2 linked regions of the Homo sapiens genome follow. The protein of the gene in region 2 interacts with the protein of the main gene of each other region in a pairwise test. Each region holds a gene or a part of one and is shown on either strand. Other genes may lie near its edges. The genes, in order: API5 and BICDL2.

Region 1 (14,964 bases), on a different chromosome or scaffold from region 2:
TCTCTGCATAATGAGATGTAGTGGTTAGCTCAGGCAGCTCAAATATTGTGAATTGTAGGAAAACCGAAGATAATGCCTACTAATTCTGCTCTGTTGGGTTATACTTCTCCCCTTTTAGATAAAATGCCTAAAATCACTTACTAAAAAAGACAGTAGGTTTTAGGATATTGCTTGTAATTTTAACTAACAAAGGCAAAAGCCACCTTAGTAGAGAGGACACCATTTCACTTGTTTTTAAGGAGAGAAAACCGTGTTCATGTTCTTGATGTAGCAAAGCCTGATTTTCATGTCAACTTATGAGAGATTTATGATCAGTACTAAGTTTCCTGGCAAATACCTGTCTGGATACTTCTGAGACTGCATTCAAGTTTGTCAGTCTTGACTTCCTTCTAACTTTTACTTTGATTATCAACCTTTACCAGAGAGGTGAGCACTACAGGTGTTCTGATTGCTGCCACTACAGACTATTCCCTCCCCATTATTGTCAATACTCCTTTCAGAGTAGTGCCTTCTAAATATATAAGGGTAAACTTACAAGCCGTCTGAGGTTTTATCGGCTAATTTCCCCAAAGCAGATCAAATCCTCTTTTTGAACCCCTTGGTACGATGTACTTACTAATAATGCTTCAGACTTGTATTTTATTTTATTTATTTCTGTACTTAAATTATAACGTCTCAAGGGTTAAATCCTTTTATGTATTTATTTATTTATTTATTTATTGCTTCTCTTCTTGCACTGTACCTTGCCCTTCAGTAAGCATTTCTTTTTCATAGTTGAAGAAATGTATTGGAAGAAGGAACAGAGAAACCATTTACAAAAGAAAAGAAAAACCATTTACACAGATTATCTCTAATGGATAAAGGGAACTTTATCATACACACACACATACATACATATATGAGCATGTATATTCTAATAAGCAAACTGCAGATGACAAATTCTAAGTGCAGAATTATTTAATACCTCAAATCTTCCAGTCCTATCATCTTCTCATGTAACTGCCATGTTCTGCCTATGCGTTCATCCTGCCTTTCCCCCACTCTGCCTCTGCTACTCCTTCAGGTCTCACTCTTCTCTTGTGTGCTCCTTTACCTTTCTGATCTCCTTTTCCACTGTACTCTGCCCAGGGCTCCTGACTAGCCATAATAGAGCAAGCTGTGGCCCACCATTATTTAAAATTCTGTTTCAAATTATTATGAATTTACTTACTTTAAATATAGATACTTAATTTTATATTATGTAGTCAAAATCTTAAAAGTTAAAAAATGTATCCGACACCTGTTAAAGGACCATGGCAGTGGGGCTGATTAGATCTGTATAATGCTGAAACCCTGATTCCTCCTGTTCTCTCAATCATTGAGTATACTAGCTTTGCAGGGTTGGCGTGTAGGCTTCTTGGACTTTTATTTCATGAAATAACCACTCTTGTAGTAGGGTTTTTTGTATGATTAAGCTAAAACCACTGACCAACCAAGTTCGTAATCCCTCAAAAATATGTGGAAATATTTATTTCACTTCTCTGAGCCCTAGTTTCCTCATCTAAAAGATAAGAATAGTAGTAACACCTATTGTGATATAGACAAGGAATCACTCAGTCCCTGGTAGACCTTCAATAAATATTGTTAATGATTCCTTTTTATTTGATTCCAGATTTAATATTTTTTTCTTGGCAAAAGGAAGTTTTGTTTTAAGCAGGGTTTTTTTTTTTTCATTTAATTTTGGACAGTGTAAGGAGTTTCTTCAAATGGCTTTATGAGTAAGTTTGAGTTAAAGAAAATTAGATTTGTGATACCCTGCAAAAAGTAAGGGTGTCAGAACAAACTTTGATTTTATGAAGCCTGCCTAGAAGTCTGAGGCAAACCACAGGAATGTAAAGTGGTAGAGAAGTCAGCATGATTTCTTTTTTTAATGTTTGCGGTGAAAAGTATGTCATATACCTTTCTTTCTTTGAGACAGGGTCTTGCTCTGTCAGGCTGGAGTGCAGTGGCGCGACCACAGCTTACCACAGCCTCTAACTCCTGGGCGCGACCATGGCTTACCACAGCCTTTATCGCCTGGGCTCAAGTGATTCTCCTCCCTCAGCCTCTCCAGTAGCTGGGACTGCAAGCACACACCACCATGCCTGGTTAATTTTATATTTTTTGGAGAGACAGGGTCTTGATGTGTTTATAATACACTTTTCAGTGATGACTCCTGAAGACTCATATATCTGCATTTCATGAAGAAGTTAACCTTATTCACAGAAATTTCTGTTATTTGGGAGTTGTTCTGTAACTTTGCATCCTGCTTTATTTTTTCACTTAACATAGCATTATCAACAAAAAAGAATCACTGTAAAATAAATTTGGTAATTCTGTAGTTCATTGGATATTTATTGGTCATTCCCCGCTTGATGGCATGAAGTAAGCTCATGTGTCTAAAGCACTTAGAACACTCCTTATACATAATAAATACTATACTGTGTATATGTTTGGTCAAGATTATAATTTTTAAGTTGTTTTTCCAGTTACTAAGTTTTATTCATATGTCCAAACAATATATATGTGTAGTCTTTCTGTATTTGTTACTGTTATTTACCATCTTTATCAGTGTCATTTCATAAAAGGACTGGTTTGGAGGCAAGTACTTAAGGAGGATTGGGAACTTATTGATTCCTCCCATTATGAGTATTTGAGGGAGAGCACCTGTGATTTTTTTTTTTAAGGAAACATGAGCTTTGAGTGTATTGTTCCAATAAAAGGTTTAAACATGTGACATTAGAGTCCGTCTTAATCCAAAATTGTCTGGCTATATGGAGTGAATTGTCATGGCTTTCATATACTGCTATGAGGTAAAATTAAACTGCACTTCCTAACATTGCTGGAATTGCTAAATTTCTGGAATGTATTCCCTTCACCTTCTTCAAGGTGCTAATTAGAAACAGGTAAATTTTTGTTTAAGTAAATACAGTGCAATTCTTTGTGAATTCTATGGTATTCATGATGATTTATTTATTTACTTGTTTAAGATAGAGTCTCATTCTGTCACCCAATCTGGAATGCAGTGGTGCGATCTCAGCTCAGTGCAACCTCTGCCTCCTGGGTTCAAGCGATTCTCCTGCCTCAGCCTCCTGAGGAGCTGGGATTACAAATGTCTGCCACCACACCCAGTTAATTTTTGTATTTTTAGAGAGAGGGAGTTTCACCATGTTGGGCAGGCTGGTCTGGAACTCCTGAGCTCAAGTGATTGCCCACCTCGGCCTCCCAAAGTGTTGAGATTACAGGCATGAGCCACCACACCTGGCCATCATTACAATTGTTTTGTTTGTTTGTTTGTTTTGTTTTGTTTTGTTTTTTGGAGACAGAGTCTCACTCTGTCATCCAGGCTGGAGTGCAGTAGTACGATCTCAGCTCACTGCAACCTCCGCTTCCCGGACTCAAGCAATTCTCCTGCCTCAGCCTCCCGAGTAGCCGGGATTACAGGCGCACACCACCACGCCTGGCTAATTTTTGTGTTTTAGTAGAGACGGGGTTTAACCATGTTGGCCAAGCTAGTCTTGAACTCCTGACCTCAGGTGATCCACCCACCTTGGCCTCCCAAGGTGCTGGGATTACAGGCGTGAGCCACCACGCCTGGCCCATTACAAATTTTTTAAGCATGATACAGTCACATGGCCAGAGTTAATAATCACTAGAATGAAGAAGTATTGGCATATTAACAAACACATTTGCTTTTTCCACTTAAAATTAGACTCATCCATCTCCCCCAACTCAAAAATGAAACAAAGATGGAGGGAGAACGGAATTGGGAAGGTAAGTGTCAGTTTGAGCAGTAAACCTCCCAAAATCAGCTTTATTTCTTAGCCTGTGTAAAAATTTAAAGCACACTCTAACATGTTTGTTATGGTCTTTTACTTTGCTTCCCATCCTTCAAAATCATGTGTCTTTCCTGCTTTATTTTTTATTTCAGCATAAAGATGCCTATCAAGTGATATTGGATGGTGTGAAAGGTGGTACTAAGGAAAAGCGATTAGCAGCTCAATTTATTCCGAAATTCTTTAAGCATTTTCCAGAATTGGCTGATTCTGCTATCAATGCACAGTTAGACCTCTGTGAGGATGAAGATGTATCTGTAAGTTTATGAATGACACTTCATAGCAATCTTTCAGATGTTTCTGTATGTGGCTGATACAATTGGAGTAGCAATCTGATATATCAGAGTACACAATAAAATACTATGGTATGGTCTGGCATGGCATCACACCCAGGCTTAAATTTACATATGATAAAGTGTATTAGCCTTTTTCAACACCTTTAAATTATGAAAAATGCATAGAATCTCAAAATACTTAGTTTCGCTTATCATTTATCCACTGTTAAAAATGGGTTGTGGCTCACATCTTGTTTCATAGATTGTTATTCATTGTGCATATGAAATTAGACTGTTTTTAATCAATTTGTGCTTACTTGGATATTTAAATTATTAAGTGTTATATCATAAAATGTAGTTTCACTACCCTTATATATTTTGCATGGCAGAAAAATGGTATGTGTAATAAGTGAATAGGATTACTAGATTAAAAAGAAATAGTTTTTGTTTTTTGGTTTTTGGGGGGTTTTTTGGAACAGAATTAACCAGTAATATTTCTGGCTGCTGACACAGGTTCCTAAGAATATTCAGCCGTTAGCTCTTGTCTTTTCAGATGAAACAGCGAATTGCCAACATTTCATGCAGAATTTGCTGGATATAAACCCTATACTTTTTTTGCTTTTTTAATAGAAACAGGGTTTCACTCTGTTGCCTAGACCAGAGTGCAGTTGCACATCCATAGCTCACTGCAGCCTTGAACTCCTGGGTTCATGCATTTTTTTCCACTTTAGCCTCCCAAGCAGCACAGACCACCGTTCCCAGCTGATTTTTAATTTTTTTGTAGGGTCTTGCCATGTTGTCCAGGCTGGTCTCAAACTCCTGGCCTCAAGCTATCCTCCCACCTTGGCCTTCTGAAGCATTGGGATTACAGGCGTGAGCCACCTCATCTGGCCCGCTGTACATATTTTATGTAAAAATCGAATAAGCCAAGATCAGTATTTGGAATTAAACATGCAGAATATAGCCACAAATGTTGTATTTAGTAGTCAATACTGAAAATTCTAAAGTAAACAGTTACTAGGTATAACATTGCCACAGTAGCCATTTTTTAGGAATACTATATTATAAGCCCATAGGTAGTAAAAACCTAACAGTTGCATATAATTAGCATGTAAATAGTTGTTTATAATCTCAAATCTGTCTCCTTCAGCGAGACATTGTTAACATCCCTTTTTATATTTTATTCTGTGTAACTTGAAGATTAAATTGGAGCAAATTCTCTCTTTTTTTTTTTTTTTTTTTTTGAGAAGGAGCCTTACTCTATTGGCCAGGCTGGAGTGCGGTGGTGCAATCTTGGCTCACTGCAACCTCCGCCTCCCTGGTTCAAGCGATTCTTCTGTCTTAGCCTCCCAAGTAGCTGGGACTATAGGCGTGTGCCACCACGCCTGGCTAATTTTTGTATTTTTAGTACGGACAGGGTTTCACCATATTGGCAAGGCTGGTCTCAAACTCCTGACCTCGTGATCCACCTGCTTCAGCCTCCCAAAGTGCTGGGATTACAGGTGTGAGCCACCACGCCCGGCCAATTGGAGCAAATTCTTTTTAAAACTGCTAGAAATCTGCTGTTTCATATTTTTGTGACTCGTATGCCCCTAATGATGGCTTCTCTGTGGTTTTAGTTTTCTTAAAAAGTTGAGTTTGCAGCTGGGCATGGTGACTCATGCCTGTAATCCCAACACTTTGGGAGGCTGAGGTGGGAAGATCACTTGAGCCCAGTAGTTCGAGAACAGCCTGGGCAACATAGGGAAATCCGCCTTTAAAATTAGCCAGGCGTGGAGGCTTGCGTCTATAGTCCTAGCTACTAGGGAGGCTAAGGCAAGAGGCTCTCTTGAGCCTAGAAGGTCAAGGCTACATTGAGCCATGGTTGCACCACTGCACTCCAACCTGGGCAACAGAGCAATACCTTGTCTTTAAAAAAAAAAAAAAGAAAGAAAAGAAAAAGCTGTTTGTTATTTTAAAGGTGATAGTATTTGGTTAATTTTTGTTTGAAATCATGCCCAGATTCGACGTCAAGCAATTAAAGAACTGCCTCAATTTGCCACTGGAGAAAATCTTCCTCGAGTGGCAGATATACTAACGCAACTTTTGCAGACAGGTAAGGGATTTTATTATTACCTTTTTCTCTAAATATATATCTTCTTTCTGAAATGTTGACTCTGTTTTTAGGTTTTAAATGGGGTGCAGGAGAGCTGGAGGTCCTACCTCTGATAGAGATTAAATTTCCTACTTTCATTCAGTAGTTAAAGTGTAATGATTTCTGGTTATCTAATTCCTGGTGTTGTTTTGTTTTTAATTCCGTTATGAAGGTGTAATGACTAGATTCTTTTGGGCATTTTGATATATCATAATTTTTCCCCCAATTTCCTGTAGTTTCATAATTGTAGCATCTTAATAAAAGTTTTTCAGGCATGCCAGATCGGGTTCTCAACTTACAAGGAACACGTATCTTTTTGGTACTTGAGGGAATGGCTTAAGTTATAAGTTTCCTGTCAATGTAACCTTGAGAAACTAAGTTGAATCAAGTTTGAAACTGAAGCAGATGATATTTTAAATTTGTTTTATATTCATTATGCCACTTTTTCTTTATCCAGATGACTCTGCAGAATTTAACCTAGTGAACAATGCCCTATTAAGTATATTTAAAATGGATGCAAAAGGTAAGGCCAGTTCTTATTCTGAATTGTGTTTGATGTCTTACAGAATCACAAAGTTAGGTGTTACTCATTAAGAATAAACTCTAGGGTTTACCCAGAGTTCTATTTCATAAAAATTCTAAGTATTGTGAAAAAAGTCTCCTTAGGTCAAGATGTTTATGACTAGAAAAACGAGCAGAAATAACTGCAAAAACAGATCACGTTTTTCCATTAGAAATCTGTTGGAAGAACTCCTTTTGACACTTTCAAGAAATTCTTCCAAAATACCTGGGTTTTATTATTAGTAATGATAAAAAAGGAAAGTCATGCTTAAGCTGACTATGTCTTCATGAAGAAAGCACTCTTATGGTTCAGGCTGTAGAAATTTCAGACTACTTTTAACTAGTAATGAGGATGATATTTGGGAAGTTCATTAACTTATTTGAGAAGAAATACTATAAATTGAGTTAAATGGGAAAACACCATTACACTATAGAATTGACTTGCTACAGGCAACTATTTTGTTTTGCAGGGACTTTAGGTGGGTTGTTCAGCCAAATACTTCAAGGAGAGGACATTGTTAGAGAACGAGCAATTAAATTCCTTTCTACAAAACTTAAGACTTTACCAGATGAAGTCTTAACAAAGGAAGTGGAAGAGCTTATACTAACTGAATCCAAAAAGGTGAGCTTTGGTCTTCATTTGGTGGAAATTCTCTAAAGCAAAAGAGCATACTTGACATTGGCAGTATTCGTCAATGTTATGTGTGGCTTGTGTATAAAATGATATATCATATATCCCATTGGAACCACCATAGAACTTCTAAGTTTTTCTTAGATTGAATTTAGCACTTTTGTCGGTGGTAATGATGAATCAATTTGGTAATTTAAAGGAATCTGATTACATTTAAACTTTTCGTGGTAGTGTCCTTAAAATTTGTGCAACCTCTGCAAATCACCTCCTTCAGGAAACTTTCCCTAAGTCCTACCCCTCCCTTCCATTTTAGGATACTCTCTCATAGTATTCTAAATTATTTCAAAATGAAACATCACATCAAAATGACCTGTTGTCACCTTAGCCCTTGACACTATCTGCTCTTCAAGGGTGAGACCATGCTTGTCTTTGCTCCCAGCATCTAGCATAGTTGTAGACGCTAAGATTGGCAAGGTGCGTCACAATTAACTTTTCACTCATCTTAATGTGCCAAAGTTTGGGAATAGTTTACTTTTTTAATATGTTACAGAAGATTCAGCATTTTATCTAAAGCATGTGATCACTGTTATGGTTCAGGCTTTAGAAATTTCAGACTACTACTACCCACTTCCTTATTGATAAGATTATTTTTCAGTGAGAAAAAAGTAGATCTTTAGCTGGGAGTATCAGACTATTTTACCTATGCCCCAGCTTGTAATCTGGTAGAGTATGTCGTGATTGTGAGCTTTTTTGGTCCATGAATAGAAAGATTTAGACCCACTGATATGGAAGATTTAACATGAGACTTGCAAGGTGACCTATTTTGTATACAACAATTACCATATTAATATGAATTAGGCTGCTTTTAAATATAGGATACAATCTGATTCAACAGTTTGCTACAGAATTTTTCCAACCATTTTTTAAAGTCACTCCCCTAAATAGCCAATTTTTTTAATTTTTTTTTTTTCTTAACTGCTCTCCCATGAAATTTTAATGCCACATATACACTGTATATCTGTTTATGGTACTACATGTATATCTGTGCTTTGTACGTAAAAAAGTAACATTTTCTAAGAACCAATTTTTGCCCCCTTGGAGAATGCGTGGTTTACACTGAAGCTCAATTGACTGAAGCTAGAAGTTGCCTTTTCGTCAGTATTTTGGAAGCATTAATAACAAACTGACTTTAGTAACTGAAATAAATTAGCTATTCTCTTTCAGTGTTGATCTGTCCCATTCAAATGATGAACATACTCTTATTCTGAATTGTCTCTTTTCCAGGTCCTAGAAGATGTGACTGGTGAAGAATTTGTTCTATTTATGAAGATACTGTCTGGGTTAAAAAGCTTACAGACAGTGAGTGGAAGACAGCAACTTGTAGAGTTGGTGGCTGAACAGGCCGACCTAGAACAGACCTTCAATCCCTCGGATCCTGACTGTGTGGACAGGCTCTTACAGTGCACTCGGCAGGCAGTACCCCTCTTCTCTGTGAGCTCTTTATTTTTACACACCCGGTATTAGCTATATATATATTTCCATAAATACTCACTTTAACATTCCCCTTAAACCTTTCCAGTAGTGTCCCTTATCTGAAATGCTTGCTTGGAACCAGAAGTGTATTCAGATTTTTGAATATTTGCATTGTGCCTGGTTGAGCATCCCTAATTCAAAAATCCAAAACCTGAAATGCTTTAATGAGCATTTCCTTTGAGCGTGATGTTTGAGCATCACATTGGTGCTCAAAAAGTTTTGGATTTTGAAGCATTTCAGATTTGGGATTTTCAGATGAGGGATGCTTGGTCTGTGTTTATGAAGGCCACAGTGGTGTTGGTGAGAACCCAAAGCAGCAAGAAACTTTCTTGAAAGAAAGAATTTTTTTTTTCCTTTGAGACAGAGTCTTGCCCTGTCACTCATGCTGGAGTGCAGTGGCACGATCTTGGCTTACTGCAGCTTCTACCTCCCAGGCTCAAGCCTTCCTTCCATCTCAGCCTCCCAAGTAGCTGCTACTACAGTCATGCACTATCACACTCGGCTAATTTTTGTGTTTTTTGTAGAGACGGGGCTTCCCCATGTTGCCCATACTAGTCTTGAACTCCTGAGCTGAAGCAGTCTGCCCACCTTGGCCTCCCAAAGTGCTGGGATTACAGGTGTGAGCCACCATGAGTGGCCAATAAATTTTTTTTAAGTCTTCCTAGAGACTTTTTTTGAAAGTCATGAGAATTTTGCATTCTGTCTCAGGCTTTGTGTTTCCTGAGGCCATGCATCTTCTGGGATGTGCATACATTCATTTGAAAAACACAATTTAAAGGAACTATCCTAGAGCAGGCGTGGTGGCCCGTCCCTGTAATCCCAATCCCAGCACTTTGTGAGCCAAGGTGGGAGTATCACTTGAGGCTGAGTTCAAGACCAGCCTGGGCAACAGAGCAAGACCTTGTCTCTACAAAAAAAATTAAGTAATAGAATTATCCCTTTTGAGAAATGTGCAGTCTGAAAATCCAACACTAAAAGATGTCCACAATTCATTTATTTATTTATTTATTTATTTATGAGACAGAGTCTCGCTCCATCCCCCAGGCTGGAGTGCAGTGGCATGATCTTGGCTGACTGCAACCTCCACCTCCCAGATTCAAGCAATTCTCGTGCCTCAACTTCCCGAGTAGCTGGGATTACAGGCAAGCACCACCACACCCAGCTGATTTTTTGTATTTTTAGTAGGGATGGGGTTTTGCCATGTTGCCCAGGCTGCTCTCGCACTCCTGAGTTCAGGCAATCCACCTGCCTCAGCCTCCCAAAGTGCTAGGATTACAGGCATGAGCCACCATGCCTGGCCATGCCCCAAATTTGACCAGAGAATCAAGGAAGAGATCAAAATGTATAGATGTTCCAATGCTCCAGATGACTTTGCAGTAAAGTATATAAGGGGTCTTCAAAAAGTTCCTGGAAAATGCATATTATGAAAGAAAAAAAAAAAACTACGCATGGATTACAAAACATTTTTCACCAAAATAAACTTGTACTTATAACATGTCTGAACAGGATATAGTTTGAGGAACTAAGAAGGGTCAGACATCAGTTTGAAAAGAGCACCTATCAGAGCAACATGAATTCTGCTAAAGTTGAAGCAAGAACAAATATCGAATTTATGGTGAAGCTTGGTGGAAGAATAGTGAAATCATTGATGCTTTATGAAAAGTTTATGGAGACAATGTCCCCAAAGAAATCAACAGTTTACAAATGGATCACTCATTTTAAGAAGGGACAAGACAACGTCAAAGCCCATTGCAGCAGATCAATTTGCGAGGAAAAATTTAATCTTGTTTATGCCCTAAATGAAGAAGACCGATGATTAATAGCAGAAACAATAGCCAACATCATCGATATCTCAGTTGGTTCAGCTTATTCAATTCCGACTGAAAAATTGAAGTTTAACAAACTTCCTACTGATGAGTGTCAAAACCATTGCACTCAGATTAGCTGCAGACAAGAACAGAGCTTTCAGTGGAAATTGTAAACAAGTGGGATCAAGATCCTGAAGCATGTCTTTGAAGAATGGGAACAGGAGGTGAAACATGGCTTTAGCAGTGCAATTCTGAAGACAAAACACAGTCAAAGCAATGGCTGCCAGGAAGTGAAAAGGGCCCAGTCCAAGCAAAAAGAGACCAGTTAAGAGGAAGGGCTATGGCAGTTTTTTGGGATGCTCAAGACATTTTGCTGGTTGACATTCTGGAGGGCTAAAGAATAATGTCTGCTTATTATGAGCTTGTTTTGAGAAAGTTGGCCAAAGATTGAGCAGGAAAACGCCTAGGAAAGCATCACCAGAGTTCTCCACCGCCACAGTGCTCCTGCTCATTCCTCTCATCAAACAGGGACAATTTTTTAAGAGTTTTGATGAGGAATCATTAGGCATCCACCTTAAAGTCCTTATTTGGGCCCTTCTGATTTCTTTTTGTTGCCTAATCTTAAAAAACATCTTTAAAGGGCACCCACATTTCTTTGGTTAATAGTATAAAAAAGACTGCATTGACATGGTTAAGTTCCCAGGACCCTCAGTTGTTCAGAGATGACTGGTATCATTACCTGCAAAAGTGTCTTGACCTTGATGGAGCTTATGTTGATAAATAAAGTTTATATTTTTTATTCTTTATCTTTTTATTCCATTTTTCCATGAACTTATTGAAGCCCCTTCGTAGATCACCTATTGAGGTTATATCTGGGGCATGCTGGGGTGTGCACTATATCGTATTTGTAGTCAGAATACTTGATGCTGTAGCGCTCAGCATTTATTGAATGAAATTCTGCTATAATATTTGAGCGAATATTTGTTTTTCGACAATGCATTTTCTTTGGATTTCTTACAGAAAAATGTCCATTCCACAAGGTTTGTGACATATTTCTGTGAGCAGGTTCTCCCTAACCTCGGTACCTTGACTACCCCAGTGGAAGGTCTTGATATACAGTTGGAGGTAAGCAAAAATTTCAGCTTTAGCACTGATAAGGCATTCTTATATTTTAACAAAAATGTAAACCACTAACTTAGATCCGATTTCTAAGGGAGCAGTTTAAATGTCTGGTAATGGCCAGCCAGTAATCTCCCTAGACCAGAATTAATTGCATTAGGACTGCTTCATGGATTCAATTAAAGTTTGCTGCAATGGGAAAGCCTTACCTGTAGTTTTATTATAGTCAGTCTCTACTTTTGTAGCCTTAATATTTTTAAATAAGGTGTTTAATTCATTCATTTCTATCCATAACTGACAGAGCCAATTTTAAACTGGATTAACACAAAATATCCTTTATTCCTTCTTCAATAGAATTCACTACCCCTCCCAACTTTGTATCTCAACTGTAATGTATGTAAACATTTTTTCACAGCATCTGTAATACTTTACATTTGTTTATAATCTCTCCCTACATTTAATCTGATTCACCTCTGTATCCCCAGAATCTGGCACAAAACTTGATTTTGAATCAAGCACCCAATAGTGATTATTGAATTGGACTGAAATATGGAAATGCGTGTGCCATTTCCCTCATGGGTCTTTGGGATAGAGAAGAATCTCACTGTGCACTGACAAGGTAGTTTGCTTCAAATGTGCTGGGCTAGGCCCATCAGACTGGGATTGGGAAATGCAGGAATGAACCTTGAGAATAGTGGTCATTACCAATATTTTGAGTAAGTATCCAGAGACTAAATTTAACAGGAAATGAGGCCCACCTTAACCATGAGTAATTAGTTCTTAGCTGTTGAGAGTTCTTACTAAGTGTGTCTTTATAGTTAATATATTTATCATTTTTGCCTTGCAATTAGCACAATCATTAACCTGTAGCAGAAAGTGTCGTATGTATTATTTTCCATACTTCTTCTCACAGATATATTGGAAATCATGGGATCTGGGTTTTAGGGTCTGCCCTGCCACTTACACCCTGTGACTTTGTCGAGTCACATAATCTCTGACCTTTACTTTCCTTCACAGTAAAATGTTGGGCTGCATCTATCTCTAAGGTTTTCTTCCATTTCAAATGTTATGATTCTGTGAAAACATAATTGAAAATAAAGTCTTAAATCGTTATCTAGAATTACTCTCATTTCATAACCCTTGCTTATTCAAAAAAACAGTAATAGTGAATTGTGTGTTTTAGGTATTGAAATTGTTGGCGGAGATGAGTTCATTTTGTGGTGACATGGAAAAACTAGAAACAAATTTAAGGAAACTATTTGATAAGTTATTGGTAAGAACTTTTTCCTTTCCTTATGGGATAGTCAGTATATAGCTCAAAGTCTAATTTATTATTAATTTCTAGATTACAAGAACCAGTTTTTGAAATTTCAATTAAACAATAATCCTAATAAGTATTGTTAGCTTCCTAGGCCACATGTTGTTGTCTACTTTGTTTTAATCTTGGTGTTTCTTATAATTAGGGAGAAAATAGGCCATCTGATAAAATCATTATCAGCATCACTGAGTGATTTTCTTATTTGATGTATTTGTATAACTAACACAGTGATAAGCATTAGGTCCTTAGCATGAATTGAGTCATCAACATCTGGCACTCGTCCAGATGTAACTTACTGGGTTGTTATAGCACTGATACTGAATGCCATTGGCAGTACTTCACTTGTAATGAGTCAGTACTTAAACAATATGGACTTACGTTCAGAAAATATTTTTGTAGTAAGCATAGTATAGTTGTTAAGAGCATCAGCATTTGATGTCAAATCTAGATTGAATTCTGACTCTTTAGTTTATTAACTTTGTTACCATGGGAAGGTTACCCTAACTCTCAGAGCATCAGTGCCTTTATCTGTAAGTGCCTAATAAATGATAGCTACATTAATCTTCATTATTAATAATAGCAGCTGTAACAGCAGCTGTAACAGGTTAATATGGAGCGTTGACAGGCTAGAGCATTGATCCAGTAAGTAAAAAAGAAATCCAAATGTCTGGTTTTGGTAGTTTTTAATGCTCCATGCCTTAAAAACATGCACTGTAATTCCCTGAATATCTGTTTATAATTTGAATATGTAGAACAGATTGCAAAATCTGTATATTTTTCTCTCTTAGGAATACATGCCCCTCCCTCCAGAAGAGGCAGAAAATGGAGAGAATGCTGGTAATGAAGAACCCAAGCTACAGTTCAGTTATGTGGAATGTTTGTTGTACAGTTTTCACCAGTTGGGCCGAAAACTTCCAGATTTCTTAACAGCCAAACTGAATGCAGAAAAGCTCAAAGATTTCAAAATCAGGTGATATATGATTGAGGTGGCTCAATCCTTGGCAAAGGTGGTAGCTATCCTGAAGTTCCTTGGGTTTTGCTTTTGTTCTATGAGAGCTCCCCATCCTGCCTTACCCCAGTGATACAGATTGGAGGGTTCAGAAAATGGGCATGTTTGTAAACATATGACAGAAATGAGCCAGGCATGGTGGCTCACGTCTGTAATCCCAGCACTTTGGGAGGCCAAGGCAGGAGGGTTGCTTGACACCAGGAGTTTGAGACCAGCTGGGCAACATAGTAAGATCCTGTCTCTATAAAAAATAACTTTAAAAAAATTAGCGGAGTGTGGTAACACACCAGTAGTCCCAGCTACTTGCAACACTGAGATGGGAGGCTCACTTGAGCCCAGGAGCTCGAGGTTACGGTCAGCTGCAGTCATGCCTCCGCACTCCTGTCTGGGCGATGAGATCATGTCTCTGAAAAAAGAAACAGTAAAAGTAAAATTTAAAAAAAATTAAAAGACAGAAATGACTTAACAAATCCATGGGGGGTAAAGGACTCTAGCTCTTCCTACTTGTTTTATGATCTTGGGCAGGTACCCTAACCTCTCTTGGCTCCCCCAAATTTTTCTCAGTTGTTAAGTGATAATAGTACCTACCTCATAGAGTTGTAAGAATTTAATAAGACAATGAATGTACAGCTTTTAGCATGGTGCCTGGCAAATAGTAGGTATTAGTAAACTGTAGCTGTTGTTATTAATAATACCTTAGTGTTACTGGAGAAGCAGCACTG
Region 2 (15,286 bases):
GGGAGGCAGCATTTGTTCATATAGAAATAAAATAAATAAATAAAAAGAAATTCACCCTCTGCAGATAGAAACATGTTTTGTGATTTACCCTATGTGCCAAATTTGGTTCATATTAGAGACCAATAAGGCCACGAACACACCAAGAGAATAAGAAGAGTTTGATTACTCAACGATGAGGCTTTCTGGGAGAGCAGAGTGGGCTCCCAGGCAGCTCTGAAAGTGGTTTAAGAGAGCAAGGAGGGTTTTTTTGTTGTTGTTGTTTTGTGTGTGTGTGTGTGTGTGTGTGTGTGTGTGTGTGTGTGTTTAATGGAGTCTCACTCTGTCGCCCAGGCTGGAGTGCAGTGGCACAGTCTGGGCTCACTGCAACCTCCACCTCCCGTGTTCAAGTAATTCAAGGAGGGGCTTTTATTATGGTTAGGGGATAAAGTGGGATGAGGGTCCCTTCCAACCAGCCAGGACTTTCCTAATTTAAATTTCTCTATAGAGTGAGGGAGAGGGCACCAGGGCCTTCAGATCAGCTTGCCCACATGTGGGCACAAGGAGAAGAGGTAGGCACGGGGCTTTAAAGCTGTCAGCTGTAAAACATCAAAAAGGGAGTCAGGCACTTTATTACCTAGTATAAATTAAAGCCTACGCTTTAGGCCAGGCGTGGTGGTTCATGCCTGTAATCCCAGCACTTTGGGAGGCCAACACAGGCAGATCACTTGAGCCCAGGCGTTCGAAACCAACCTGGACAATATAGTGAGACCCTGTCTCTACAAAAAATACACAAATTAGCTGGGAGTGGTGGTGCACACCTATAGTGCCAGCTACTTGGTAGACTGAGGCGGGAGGATCACCTGTGCCAGGGACAGTGAGGCAGCAGTGAGCTGGTACTGCACCACTGCATTCCAGCCAAGTGACAGAGTGAGACCCTGTCTTAAAAATACATAAGCTGGCCGGGCGCGGTGGCTCACGCCTGTAATCCCAGCACTTTGGGAGGCCGAGGCGGGCAGATCACGAGGTCAGGAGATCGAGACCAGTCTGGCAAACATGGTGAAACCCCATCTGTACTAAAAATACAAAAATTAGCTGGGTGTGGTGGCTCGCACCTGTGGTCCCGGCTACTTGGGAAGCTGAGGCAGGAGAATTGCTTGAACCCGGGAGGCAGAGGTTACTGTGAGCTGAGATCGTGCCACTGCCCTCCAGCCTGGGCGACAGAGCGAGACTCTGTCTCAAAGAAAGAAAAGAAAAAAGAAAAATGGGTCTTTGCAGACATAAGCTAAAGATCTCAAGATGAGATCATCCTAGATTTAGGGTGGGCCCTAAATTCAATGGCTGGCATCTTTATAAAAGAGGGAAATTTCAGTCATAGACTAAGAAGACCTAGAGGGGCAGGTCACGTGAAAGCAGAGGCAGTGACTGGACTGATGTGGCCACAAGACACAGAACACCAAGGAGCATCTATAGTCACCATGGCCCAGGGAGAGGCATGGAGTAGATTCACCCTCAGAGCCTCCAGAAGGAACCAACCCTCACTTCAGGCTTCTGGCCTCCAGAACTGTAATACAATAATTTTTCTGTTGTGTAAACCCAGTTTGTGGTTTTTTTGGTTCTCTTTCTTTGTTTGAGACAGGGTCTCGCTCTCTCATCCAGGCTGGAGTGCAGTGATGCAATCATGGCTCACTGCAGCCTTGACCTCCTGGGCTCAAGGGATCCTCCCACCTCAGCCTCCCAAGCAGCCGGGACTGCAGGCATGTGCCACTAATTATTCTTTATGTTTGTAGAGATGGGGTCTTGCTCTGTTTCCCGTGCTGGTGGATGTTTTGTTACATACATCAGCCCTAGGAAGCTAATACCTACCTCAATAAAGCTGAATTTTTTTTTTTTTTTTTTTTTTTTTTGAGATAGGGCCTTGCTCTGTCACCCAGGCTGGAGTACAGTGGCCCAATCTCAGCTCACTGCAGCCTCCACTTCCTGGACTAAAGTGATCCTCCTGCCTTAGCCCTGTGAGTAGCTGGGACTATAGGCACACAGCACTATGGCCTGCTAATTTTTGTATTGTTTGTAGAAACGGGGTTTTGCCATGTTGCCCAGGCTGGTCTCAAACTTCTGGCCTCAAGTTATCTGCCCGTCTCAGCCTCCCAAAGTGTTGGGATTACAGGCGTGAGCCACTGTGCTCAGCCAAAGCTGATTTTTTTTTTTTTTCTGAGACAGACTCTTGTTCTGTCACCCAGGCTGGAGTGCAGTGGCACATTCTCAGCACACTGCAACCTCTGTCTCCCAGGTTCAAGCGATTCTCCTGACTCGGCCTCCCAAGTAGCTGGGATTACAGGCATCTGCCACCACGCCCAGCTAATTTTTTGTATTTTTAGTAGAGAGGGCGTTTCACCGTCTTGGCCAGGCTGGTCTTGAACTCCTGACCCCATGATCCACCCACCTCCTCGGCCTCCCAAAGTGCTGGGATTACAGGCATGAGCCACCGTGCCTGCCCTGATTTTTTTTTTTTTTAATAAGTGGGAGAAAACACTTGGAAACATAAGCATACATCAAAAAAACAAGTTGCAGAACAATGAATTCAGTGTGAAATATTATATATAAAGGTTTTAAATGCTCCAAACAATACTACCTACTGTTCATGGACTTAGCATACGTCATAAAAGCCTGGAGGCACCTGGGTCTGGACCCAAGTTATTTCTACCAGACTGCTTCTGGGGAAGGGCAAGAGGAGAGTGGGGTTCTGCTGGCCTCTGGATGCCTAGCATAGACTCCCACGGCATTGTGAGGTCTGACAAGGCTTCCCCAGGGATGAGACCCCTCCTCAACTCCCAACCAAGACTCAGAACCCCCCAGGGCTCAGCGGGTGGATGGAAAGGCGGGGAGGGCATACCAAACTAAGCACCCTGGAAGCTGGCTTGTTTGGGCTGGAGAGCAGGTGAGGCTGGGTGATCATCCTTCCCTTCTTTTTTTTCTTTTTTGAAATGGAGTCTTGCTCTGTCACCCAGGTTGGAGTGCAGTGGTGCGATCTCAGCTCACTTCAACCTCTGCTGCCCGGGTTCAACTGATTCTCCTGCCTCAGCTTCTCAAGTAGTTGTGATTACAGGCGCGTGCCACCACGCCCGGCTAATTTTTGTATTTTGTTTTGTTTTGTCTTTTGTTTTTGTTTTTGTTTTGAGATGGAGTCTCACCCTGTCTCCCAGGCTGGAGTGCAATGGTGCAGTCTTGGCTCACTGCAACCTCCGTCTCCCAGGTTCAAGCGATTCTCATGCCTCAGCCTCCTGAGTAGCTGGGACTACAGGCGCCCGCCACCACACACGGCTAATTTTTTGTATTTTTAGTAGAGACGGGGTTTCACCATGTTAGCCAGGATGGTCTCAATCTCCTGACCTCGTGATCCACCTGCCTCGGTCTCCCAAAGTGCTGGGATTACAGGCATGAGCCACTGCGCCCAGCCAATTTTTGTATTTTTAGTAGAGATGGGGTTTCAGCATTTTGTCCAGGCTGGTCTTGAGCTCCTGACCTCGTGATCCACCCACCTCAGCCTCCCAAAGTGCTGGGATTACAGGCATGAACCACCGTGCCCGGCCAATCCCTTCCTTCTTAACCAGACATGTCCCAGCCTCCCCGGGCCTTCCCTGAGGTCACTCTGTCCCTCCTACTCATTTTTCTCCTGGGATCGGCAGGGAGCCTGGGGGTGAGGGGAGGGCTGAGGTCCCCTGCATGCTGGGTGGCCAGGACTCTTAGACCCAACAGGGAGATGGAGGCCAGGACTCCTGGGTCCAGAGGAGACTGAGGACCAGATTCAAATATTCAAAGCCAGGCACACTGGCTCATGCCTCAGATCCCAGCGCTTTGGGAGGCCAAGGCAGGAGGATTGCTTGAGGCCAGAAGTCGAGACCAGCCTAGGCAACGTAGCAAGACCGCATCTCTACAAAAAATAAAAAAGTTAGGCTGGGCGTGGTGGGTCACGCCTGTAATCCCAGCACTTTGGGAGGCCGAGGCGGGCAGATCATGAGGTTGGGAGATCGAGACCATCCTGCCTAACACGATGAAACCCCATCTCTACTAAAAATACAAAAAATTGGCCGGGCGTGGTGGCAGGCACCTGTAGTCCCAGCTACACGGGAGGCTGAGGCAGGAAAATGGCGTGAACCCGGGAGGCAGAGCTTGCAGTGAGCCAAGATCGTGCCACTGCCCTCCAGCCTGGGTGACACAGCGAGACTCTGTCTCAAAAAAACAAACAAACAAACAAAAAATAAAAAAGTTAGCAGGGCATGATGGCATCTGCCTGTTGTCCCAGTCACTCAGGAGGCTGAGGCAGGAGGATCGCTTGAGCCCAAGAGTTCGAGGCTGCTGTAAGCTATGATCATGCCACTGTACTTCAACCTGGGTGACAGAGTGAGACCCTATCTCCGAAAAAAACAAAAACAACACAAATTTCCCAAGAGTGATTGAGGCTGAGAGCTAGGCAAGCTGGGATGAAGGCTCTGCTATGTACCCACAGACAAATGACTTAGCCTCTCTGAGCTGGGCTCCTCACCTGTGAATGGCGTGACCTCATAGGGTTGCTCTGAGGATGAAATAGAGTATGACATGCAGGTGAGTCATCTCTGGTGGCCGCGCGGAGATCACCAGCAAGGACTAAGTGCTGGCACTTCACACTCATTTAATCCTCACACCTGGCCAGGCACGGTGGCTCACACCAGTAATCCCAGCACTCTGGGAGGCTGAGGCGGGCAGATCACCTGAGGTCAGTTGAAGACCATCCTGGGCAACACAGTGAAACCCTGTCTCTACTAAAAATACAAAAATTAGCCAGGTGTGGTGGCACACGCCTGTAATCCCAGCTACTTAGGAGGCTGAGGCAGGAGAATCGCTTGAAACCGGGAGGCAGAGGTTGCGGTGAGGCGAGATCTCACCACCGCACTCCAGCCTGGGGGAGAGAGCGAGACTCCATCTCAAAAAAAATCCTCACATCCCTATAAGCTAGGAACTATCATCCCCATTTTACAGATGGGGAAACTGAGGGCCGCAGAGGTTAATCAGCTGAAGGGCATAGGCACCCACATCTGGTATGTGGCCAACTGGATCCTGGACCGAAGCTATGTGATGCCAGCACCCATGGGCCAAGCACTTTGCTGTACTGTTTTATTGGTTCATTTCTGGTTTATAGGTCTACGCTCCCTCCCATGGCCCAGGTGGACTGTGAACCTTCTGGGAGTAGGGCTGTAATCACTTCATCCTGGGATGAGCTCAGCCTGGCAGGAGGCGCTCAAGATGTGCTACGTGTGGGTGTGAGTGGGGCCCAGGGTGACTGGCATTTGGAGGGGACACTGAGCTTCTATTTCCAGAGGGTCACATAGCAGCACCCAGGGGAGGCTGGGATGTCTTCAGTCCTCCAGTGGCTACCAGGCTGCTCCCACAGGTGCAGTGGGAGAAAGTGTCAGGCTTGCTGGGCAATGTGGCTGTAAGACAAATCTCTGGCTCCCCTACTCTCTGCTGGCAGAAAACCCTGTCCCAGCCCCAGGACCCAGGAGTCCCAGTTCCTAAGTCACCCCTCCAAGGAGTCCTTGCTCCCCTTTTCCCACAAGCCAGGAGTCCCAGCCCCCACCCTCCTCCTATTTTTCTAGAACCCAAGTAAGTAGCCCCCAGTCCCCCAAGACTCAGGAGTCCTGATCCCCAGCCAGAGGTGCACGGACCCAGCTGACACCAGCCAGCCAGAGCTGATGTGCACAGCCCCTTCTACCTCTGCACTCCGTGACGCCAGGTGAGTAGCTGGAAGTCAGCCGAGGAGCAGGTATTGCATCATGGATATTGGCAAATGCAACGAGCGAGGGCTATTGTTTTAGCCGGGGAGCCTGTTGTTAAACGCTTACCAGCACGCCACTGCTCCCAGCCTTCCATCTGTCCTGCTCTCCAGGCCAGGAGCCCCTGTCACGAGGCCCAGGGAGCCCTGGAGTCTGGAGATAAATCGTGACAAGACACAAGGCCATGGATGGGGCATCACTGCTGCCCAAGCCACCCTGGGTCCCCAGCCCCGGACCTTCCCATCTCCACACCAAAGCCCCTGTCCCAGACAAGAGCACGGTCCCCAGCTCTGCATAACTGAGGAACTGAGAACCCCAGGTGTGGAGCCACACGGACTCGGGCATGGCTCTGGGCAAGTCACTCTCACTGCCTGGGCTACAGTGTCCTTGTCTGCGGCATGGGAATCAGTAAAGAGCATGACCCTAAAGCCACACTTGTGCTGTTCACCTTCCAGTTCTGACCAGGGGACCCCAAACAAGGTGGAGGACCCCCCTCCGCCTCCGAGCCTCAGCTTCCTCATCTGTAAGATGGGGATGACAGCAGTTCCTCGTCATCAGGTCATCATGAAAGTCAACAAGTTGAGCCGGGGAGGTGGCTCACTCTGTAATCCCAGCACTTTGGGAGGCTGAGGTGGGCGGATCACGAGGTCAGGAGTTTGAGACCAGCCTGGCCAAAACATTGAAACACCATTTCTACTAAAAATACAAAATTAGCTGGATGTAGTGGTGCATGCCTATAGTACCCGCTACTCACCAGGCTGAGACAGGAGAATCACTTGAACCCGGGAGCGGAGGCTGCTGTGAGCTGAGATGGCACCACTGTACTCCAGCCTGGGCAAGAAGAGTAAAATTCCATCTCAAAAAAAAAAAAAAAGGTCAACAAGTTATGCCTATAAAAGAGTTTACTTGACCAGAAGCAGAGGCTCATGCCTGTAATCCCAGCACTTTGGGAGGCCGAAGCGGGAGGATTGCTTGAATCCAGAAGTTTGAGACCAGCCTGGGCAACATGGTGAAACCCCACCCCTACAAAAAGTACAAAAATTAGCTGGGCATGGTGGCATGTACCTGCAGTCCCAGCTACGGGGGAGGCTGTGGTGGGAGGATCGCTTGAGCCTGGGAGGACGAGACTGCAGTGATGGTGCCACTGCACTCCAGCCTGCGTGACAGAGCAAAATCCCATCTCTAAAAAATAAAAAAGAGTTTACTTAGCAGAATGCTTAAGATGTCAGATTCGGTGTTGTTGTCATTGCTAATAATTTCCTGCCCCACAGGGCAAGGCAGTCGTGACGGGAAAGGAGCGGAGGCTACCTCAATGTAGGATCTGCAAACAGTAGATGCTCAGTTAACTGGCCGGGCCATTTGCAACCACAGCAGGTTGGGCCAGTGCCCCCCACCCAGGTGGAAGCGACTCTCCCTCGACCCCGCCCGGCCATTCAGGCAGCCAGGGAGCGCCCCGGCCCCTCCCGCGGCCCCGCCCCTTCACCTGTGTTGGCCGCACACCTGGAGCCGCCTCCGGAAGAGGGGACCGGAGACCGCGGGGACCTCGGAGGGAGCCCGGCGGCTTCGGGTGAGAGCCTGGGGGACGCCGAGGGCCGGGCCCCTCGAGCCTGGGGAGGGCCTGGTCCGGCCGCGTCGGCGGAGAAGGTGGGGGAGCCGGGGCGGGGGCAGGGGAACCGGGATCGCCGGGGAACCGGGGGCGCCGGCAGGAACTCAGCCGTCGGGGGTGAGCCCAGCCGCTTCTCTGGGCTTCCGACGCCTGGGGCTGGAGGCCCCAACACCTGGGCAGCTAGGTGCGGAAGGGGAGGGGGAGCGGTCTCCAGGTCCCTGTCTCTCGCGTGGAGGGGGGCGGGGGAGCGGGGCCCGCGAGGGCCAAGTCAGGGAGGTCCCCGGGAGCGGCCTGGGGGCGGCTGGGCTGGGACCACCGTGACACTCACGTCCTGCGAGCAGGGCTGCACATGGACACCGGGCGAGAGGAGGAGGGAGAGCACGGGTGTGTGTGCCTAGTGGGTGGTGAGCCCCCGGAGGGCTGGGGCTGGTAAAGCTGTTGTGTCGGGCCCTCTGACCCGAGCCCCTGAACCCCAGCCCCTGAGCCGCCCTAGGGGAGCCCAGGGCTCCCGTCCCCAGGGGCGGACCGGGAAGTAAACAGAAACTCCGAGCCGCGCTGCGGCCGGGCGGCCGGCACAACCTGTTACCTCGCCCTGTCCTGGGCCCCACGCCAGGGCCCTGGGAAACTGGGGGGCTGAGGGTCAGGGCTCCTGAGTCCGGAGGGGTGGGGGCATGAATGCCTGAGTCCCGTGGAAAATGGGGACTGGGGTGGGAATCCTTGGTGGGGGACATTGGAGGTGGGGACCTCTGAGTCTGGAGGGTGGAGTCAAAGCACCTGCTCAGGAGGTAGCAGGAGAATGAGGGCGAGAGACCCGGGAGGTCAGGGGCTGGGATCTGGGCTTCTGGCAGGGGAAGGAGCTGGATTCCTGGGGGCGAAGATACCTCAGTTCCCAAGCCTTAGGGTCCTGCATTCCTGAGAGAAGAGGCTGGGCCCAACTCCAACTGCTGAGTCCCTGAGAACCTGGGTTCTGGGAACTGTCTCAGATGGCGAGGGGCTACAAGCCAAACTGCTGGGTTCTGGGAAGAGAGGGGACAGGGAGCAGAGGTGGCCTGTGGCCCTGGAGCACTGGAATGAGCTTTCCTGGGGACAGAGATTGTCTGGCAGAGGCCAAAGGCTGGGCAGGTCATTTCCTTCTGCTTCCTGCCTCAGTTTACCCCAGGGACATTAACGGAACTGGGTAGCCAAAACACAGGTCATTAACCCTTTGTGGCCCAGGAAGCCCTGGCTGCAGGACCGGGCAGGCTGGCAGCAGGTGGAGAATTCCTGGAGGGCCAGGTGCTGGGCGGAGGGTGAGCCCCTGTCAGGCTGCAGAGTAGAGTGTCCCGCAGCCACCTGTCCCCGCAGATGCTGCAGGTGACATGAGCTCTCCAGATGGGCCCAGCTTCCCGTCCGGGCCGCTCTCAGGGGGCGCCTCTCCCAGCGGCGACGAGGGCTTCTTCCCCTTTGTGCTGGAGCGGCGGGACTCATTCCTGGGAGGGGGCCCAGGGCCTGAGGAGCCCGAGGACCTAGCCTTGCAGCTGCAGCAGAAGGAGAAAGACCTGCTGTTGGCCGCGGAGCTCGGCAAGATGCTTCTGGAGCGAAATGAAGAGCTGCGGCGGCAGCTGGAGACGCTGAGCGCCCAGCACTTGGAGCGTGAGGAAGTGAGCTAGCACTGGACGGGGTGGGTGGGTGGGTGGGCAGGGGAGGACGGGTGGGCCTGGAGAGGACAAGGGAAGGGAGTCAGGCAAGGGAAGGAGAGAGGAGCTGGGGAGGACAGCCGGGCGAGGGGGGCACTTTGGAACAGGTCAGAGCTGGGCCCAGTCCCCCTGGCAGTGTTGCCCAGTGGCAAAGAACATGAACTCTGGGTGCCGGGCACAGTACCTCACACCTGTAATCCCAGCACTTTGGGAGGCCAAGGCAGGAAGATCACTAGCCCAGTGTTGGAGAACAGCCTGGGCAACGTAGTGAGACTCTGTCTCTACAAAAAATAAGAAAATTAGCTGGATGTGGTGGTGGCACCTGTAGTCTCAGCTACTCAGGAGGCCGAGGCAGGGGGATCAATTGAGCCCAGGAATTTTAGAGTTTGAGGCTGCAGTAAGCTATGATTCTATGATCCACTGCACTACAGCTTGAGCAACAGAGTGAGATCCTGAAAAAAAAAAAAGGAAGGAAGGAAGGAAGGGGAAGGAAGGAAGGAAGGAAGGAAGGAAGGAAGGAGAGAGAAAGAAAAGAAAAAAAGGAAAGGAAAGGAAAGGAAAAAAGGCATGAACTCTGAGGATTAAGACCTGGATTCAGGCCAGGCATGGTGGCTCACACCTGTAATCCCAGCACTTTGGGAGGCTGAGGTGGCTGGATCACTTGAGGTCGGGACTTCAAGACCAGCCTGGCCAACATGGTGAAACCCCGTCTCTACTAAAAATACAAAAAAAATTAGCCAGGCATGATGGGGTGTGCCTGTAGTCCCAGCTAATTGGGAGACTGAGGCAGGAGAATCACTTGAACCTGGGAGGCAGAGGTTGCTATGAGCCAAGATCATGCCACTGCACTCCAGCCTGGGTGACAGAGCGAGACTGCATCTCAAAAAACAAAAACAAACTGGGTTCAGACCCTCGTCCAGCTGTGTGACCCTGGGTCAGCTGCTGGCCCTCTCTGGATCTTGGGTCCAGCTCCTCAGCAGTATAGCGGAACACCAGGCGACAGTCATGGGTGTCCACTCCTTGCCTGGCACTGGGCTGAGTGCTTTCCATGACTCTCCATTGATTCTTGCCCAGCCCAATGAGGTAGGAACAGTTCCCTCTGCCCAGGTTCTATTTTTGGCCCACTTCTTGCTCTGGGGCTCACATCTGGTCTCCTGAACACCCTCCTTTATCTGCTGCGTCGGCCCCAACCACTGCCCTGAGCCTGACCTGGGTAGCTAACCCTCTCCACCAGGCCACCTAGTGGGCATCTCAACACAAGTGGCACTTGATTCCACGCACTCGATTCCATGCCCCCATCACCTGCTGTCCCCATCCTCGCCTTCCCAACCTTGAGGACCAGAGCCTGTGCACCTCCTTGGACTCTTTCTCTATTTTTTTTTTCTTTTTTTGGAGACAGGGTCTCCCTCTGTCACCCAGGCTATAGTGTGCAGTGGTGCAATCATAGCTCACTGGAACCTCAACTTCACGAGCTCAAGCAATCCTCCCATCTCAGCCTCCTGAGTAGTTGGGACTACAGGCACACATGCACCACCATACCTGGCTAATTTTTGCATTTTTTGTAGAGATGAGGTCTCACCATGTTGCCCAGGCTGGTCTCAAACTCCTGGGCTCAACCAAACTGCCTGCCTCAGCCTCCCAAAGTGTTGGGATTACAGGTGTGAGTCAATGCGCTCAGCCAACCTTTCTTGAGTGAACAAATTCCCCCCAATATCCGCAAGCCCTTTTGATTCTTCTAAACTCCAACCACCCACTGGTCGGCTCTGCAGCCTCCAAGCTGATCACAGATCACAGCCTCCATCCCTTCTGCCACAGACACTCCAGCCACCTTCTCCTGAGTCCCCAGCTTCCACTCTTTTATTATTGTTGTTATTTACATGGAGTCTCGCTCTGTCGCCCAGGCTGGAGTGCAGTGGTGCGATCTTGGCTCACTGCAGCCTCTGCTTCCTGGGTTCAAGTGATTCTCTCACCTCAGCCTCCCAAGTAGCTGGGATTCCAGGTGTGCGCCACCAAGCCCAGCTAATTTTTGTATTTTTAGTAGAGACGGGGTTTCACCATATTGGCCAGGCTGGTCTTGAACTCCTGACCTCAGGCGATCCACTTGCCTCAGCCTCCCAAAGTGCTGGGATTATAGGTGTGAGCCACCGTGCCCAGCCCCCAGCTTCCACCTTTGACCCCTGGAGCCCGTTCTCTAAGGGACAGCCCAGGACTTTCAAAAACTGCAAATCAGATCATTTCACTCCTCAACCAGAATCTCCCCCTCACACTTAGAATGAAACCAAAACCCTTCCCCAGGGCCTAAAAGTCCCAGAGAACTGGGCTCCTCCCCGACCTCATCACAGCAGCACCACCCCTTTCTCCCCTCCTCCAAGAAGGGCAGCCGAACCACCCTCTCCCCGACAATGAGGGCTCTTTTCATTTCCTCCAAGAACTCACGCTTGTTCCCTCAGGAACTTTGCACTTGCTGTTCCTTAATGCCTAGCCTTCTTTCTGGTGGCTCTTCTTGTCCTGCAGAAGTCGACTCAAACATGACGTCCTCCTTGAAGGACCCTCCACCCCCACCCCACTCCTTACTCTCTATCATTTCCCGGGTCTCTTTACAGCCCTTACTGTCTCCCTGAAACTACCTGGCTCCGGCATGTGTCCATGCCCTCTGGACTCTAAGCTGCTTGAAGCAGTGAACTTGGTGGTCTCACGTGCCACTGACAGCAGACCCCAGAACAAGTGGAGCTCAGGAAATGTGGGAGGATTGATAGCAGTGTGGGTGGATAGACTTAGAGATATTGTGTCCAGGCCACAAGGCATCAGCAGAGCCGAGCATCAGCCAGGACAATCTGACCTTGAACCTGACAGCTTAATCCTGAAGCTGTGTTGCCTCTGCAGTATTCGGTTAAGAGTTCTGCTGCCTGAGTTGGCATCCCTGCTTTGTGAAGTTATTGTGTGTCGGCTGGGCACGGTGTCTCATGCCTGTAATCCCAGCACTTTGGGAGGCCGAGGAGGGTGGATCGCTTAAGGCCAGGAGTTCAGGACCAGCCTGGCCAACATGGTGAAACCCCGTCTCTCCTAAGAAAACAAAAAAATTTGCCGGGCAGGGTGGCGCACGCCAGTAATCTTAGCTACTTGGGAGGCTGAGGCAGGAGAATCTCTTGAACTTGGGAGGCGGACATTGCCGTGAGCTGAGATAGTGCCACTGCGCTCTAGCCTGGGCCAAAGAGTAAAGATCTGTCTCAAAATAAATAAATAAATAAAAAATAAAAACAACAATAAATGACTGTGTGTCCTTAGGCAAGGCACTTAGCAACTCTTGAGCTTGTTCCATCTGTAAACCCAGGACGTTAGTGATTCTCCCTCTAGTGGATGAAATGAAGCAATGCAGATAGAGCCCTAATGCAGGGTACCTGCGAGTCGCTGCAGCAGCTGTGGCAATTGTCACCTTCATCCAGGCCCATCCCGCTTTGAGGGCCTAGAGAGAGTGGGCCAGAGGTTAACCCCCGATTCATCTGCCTCCCCACGCTGGGCATCTGGGTGTGCCAGGGCATTCCCCCGCTGGTCAGACAGGTTTTTGGGCCAGGGCGGGGCTGACCAGGGTTAATTAGAGGGAACTGGCTAGGAGGAGCTGGGGAGGGGGCTGGGCAGAGTCCAGGCCTCCAGAGCCCCTGGGACACAGCAGGTGTGTGCTGCCATGGGCCGGGGCTTGAACTCTGCCAGACTCAGGCGCCAAAAACGGCGCTTGCGACCTCAGGTCCAGAAGCCCCGGCAGCAGCTGGAGGTGAGTGGTCATCAGAGATCCCCCCACCCCAACCCTTGCCCCGGGCCCACGCGTCCTGTCTGCTCGGAACCTTCCCTCTAAATCTCTGGGTCTTGCTCACGCTTCCTCCCTCACTCTCCCTTGCTTTTGTGTCTGTCTTGGACACAAGGCCCCCTTAGGCTTTCTCCCTAGGTGTCTGTCCCTCCATCGCCATCTCTCTGTGCCTGCCCAGTCTCATCGGTGCCTCTCTGCCTCTGTCCCTCTGCCCTGGCCCCCACAGCGGCTCCAGCAGGAGAACCATGAGCTCCGGCGAGGCCTGGCAGCCCGAGGAGCCGAGTGGGAGGCCCGGGCCGTGGAGCTGGAGGGGGACGTGGAGGCCCTGCGGGCCCAGCTTGGGGAGCAGCGCTCAGAGCAGCAGGACAGTGGGCGAGAACGGGCACGGGCCCTCAGCGAGCTCAGCGAGCAGAACCTCCGGCTCAGCCAGCAGCTGGCTCAGGTGGGATGGCCCTGACCCCAGGGCCCTGGACAAGGTTGGGGAGGATGCCTGGGTCCCCAGCGGGGAGTAGGTGCATTGGGCTTGGTGCTGAGGCTCCTCTGTCCCTCTTTCCACCTCCCCAGGCCTCCCAGACTGAGCAGGAACTTCAGAGGGAACTGGACGCCCTTCGGGGACAGTGCCAGGCTCAGGCACTGGCTGGAGCAGAGCTGAGGACGCGGCTGGAGAGTCTGCAGGGGGAAGTGAGTGTCAGCTGGGGCTGGGGGATTATCTGAGCCAAAAAAGCCGGGCTGAGGGCTGGGAGGGGCTGCCCCTGTCCCCAGCTCTCAGGCCTTTCCCCAGAACCAGATGCTGCAGAGCCGCCGGCAGGACCTGGAGGCCCAGATCCGAGGCCTGCGTGAGGAGGTGGAGAAGGGTGAGGGCAGACTGCAGACCACCCACGAGGAGTTGCTGCTGCTGAGGCGGGAGCGGCGGGAGCACAGCCTGGAGGTGACCTGCAGGGCTGGGGGACTACAACTGCCTGGACCCTTAGCAATGGCTTCAGGGCTTTCTGGGAGATGAGGCCGGAGCTGGATCACTGGGAGGCCCAGAGGCTGGCCCACAAGAGCATGGGCATTAGCCCATGGGCAAATGGGAGCCACGGAAGGCTGTTGAGCAGGTGAGGCATGCTCTTAGAGTGCATCAGAGCCTGGCAGCTGGAAGAGCAGGGAGGGGGCTGGTGCCAGAGCTCAGGCCAGGAATGACAGCCCCTAGACCACGGCTGCGCAATGGAGACGGAGAAAAAGAAATGAAAAGAGGATGCGGTGTCTGATGTTAGAGATCAAAGGAGTCTGCACTTTGGGGTCAGCTTGCCTTCCTTCGCATCCCGGTGCCCCTTCTTACTTACTACTGTGGGACAAGCAGCCTCAGTAGCACCAATAAATGCTGCATGAAACAATTACTGAATGAGGAGGTAGACTGGGCAGGGGAGGAGATGGGGCTCTTCGAGGTGCGGCCCTGCTCTATAGGCGAGGAAACTGTATATATCCGCTGAGGGAGGTGCACGGCCCAAGGCGCCCAGCGATCCAGGAACGGGAACAGCCTGGGCCGCTGGGGTGCGGGGCTCTCCGCGGCACCCCCGTGTGGACCTGCCGCGGGATGTCGGCGTTGCGTGCGTCCCGCTGACCGCCCGCGCTTCCGTCTGCGGGACCGTCCACAGCTGGAACGCGCACGGTCAGAGGCTGGGGAGGCGCTGAGTGCGCTGCGGAGGCTGCAGCGGCGCGTCTCCGAGCTGGAGGAGGAGTCACGCCTCCAGGACGCCGACGTGTCGGCTGCCTCGTTGCAGTCAGAACTGGCCCACAGCCTCGACGACGGCGACCAGGGCCAGGGCGCCGACGCACCCGGAGACACCCCGGTGAGCTCGTGGGGCCCCAGCCCCCTTACCTGTGCCATCGAGAGGGTTGCAGGCTCCGCCTTTCCTCCTTTCCCCAATAAACTCCACACCACTAACCCATTTCTTTGGCCCACAGACCACCCGGTCCCCAAAGACCCGAAAGGCGTCCAGCCCCCAGCCTTCACCCCCGGAAGAGATCTTAGAGCCCCCCAAGAAGCGAACATCCCTCAGTCCAGCGGAGATACTGGAGGAGAAGGAGGTGGAAGTGGCCAAGCTGCAAGATGAGGTGGGGCAGAGGGCACGGTGCTGGATGCACGGCCCCTCCAGCTGTCAGTTTCTGTCTCCCATGTCCACCTCCCAGCCTTTGCCCACTAAGCTCCCTATACCTGGATCGGCTTTCATCTCAACAAACTTACTTCAAGAGCCAGCCTGTATGCCACCTCCTCCAGGAAGACTTCCTGGACAGCACCTCTGCCCTTAGTTCCACTCCCAATGCTTCTCCCTGCATCCCTCCTGCAGGGTTATACCACTCCAACTAACCCTGCTCCACCCCACCCCGCACCAGCCTGAGGGGCTCAGAGGGCTCATATCGGAGTCTCCAGCAC

The links.
Region 1: the proteins of BICDL2 (region 2) and API5 interact in binary tests that used the Homo sapiens proteins (3 or more experiments, as listed by UniProt).

Annotation. Positions count from the first base shown.
Region 1 is NC_000011.10:43,314,691-43,329,654, forward strand, and holds part of API5 (apoptosis inhibitor 5), read left to right. Parts: intron 1-3,730; exon of another isoform or gene 3,731-3,792; intron 3,793-3,949; coding exon 3,950-4,111; intron 4,112-6,130; coding exon 6,131-6,224; intron 6,225-6,720; coding exon 6,721-6,786; intron 6,787-7,294; coding exon 7,295-7,446; intron 7,447-8,739; coding exon 8,740-8,946; intron 8,947-11,816; coding exon 11,817-11,921; intron 11,922-13,098; coding exon 13,099-13,188; intron 13,189-14,021; coding exon 14,022-14,203; intron 14,204-14,964. UniProt on the Homo sapiens protein: Antiapoptotic factor that may have a role in protein assembly. Negatively regulates ACIN1. By binding to ACIN1, it suppresses ACIN1 cleavage from CASP3 and ACIN1-mediated DNA fragmentation. Also known to efficiently suppress E2F1-induced apoptosis.
Region 2 is NC_000016.10:3,028,961-3,044,246, reverse strand, and holds the start of BICDL2 (BICD family-like cargo adapter 2), read left to right. Parts: upstream 1-7,302; 5' UTR 7,303-7,353; exon of another isoform or gene 7,354-8,720; 5' UTR 8,721-8,750; coding exon 8,751-9,032; intron 9,033-9,252; exon of another isoform or gene 9,253-9,349; intron 9,350-11,153; exon of another isoform or gene 11,154-12,750; coding exon of another isoform or gene 12,751-12,837; intron 12,838-13,096; coding exon 13,097-13,312; intron 13,313-13,434; coding exon 13,435-13,551; intron 13,552-13,651; coding exon 13,652-13,798; intron 13,799-14,507; coding exon 14,508-14,702; intron 14,703-14,817; coding exon 14,818-14,967; intron 14,968-15,286.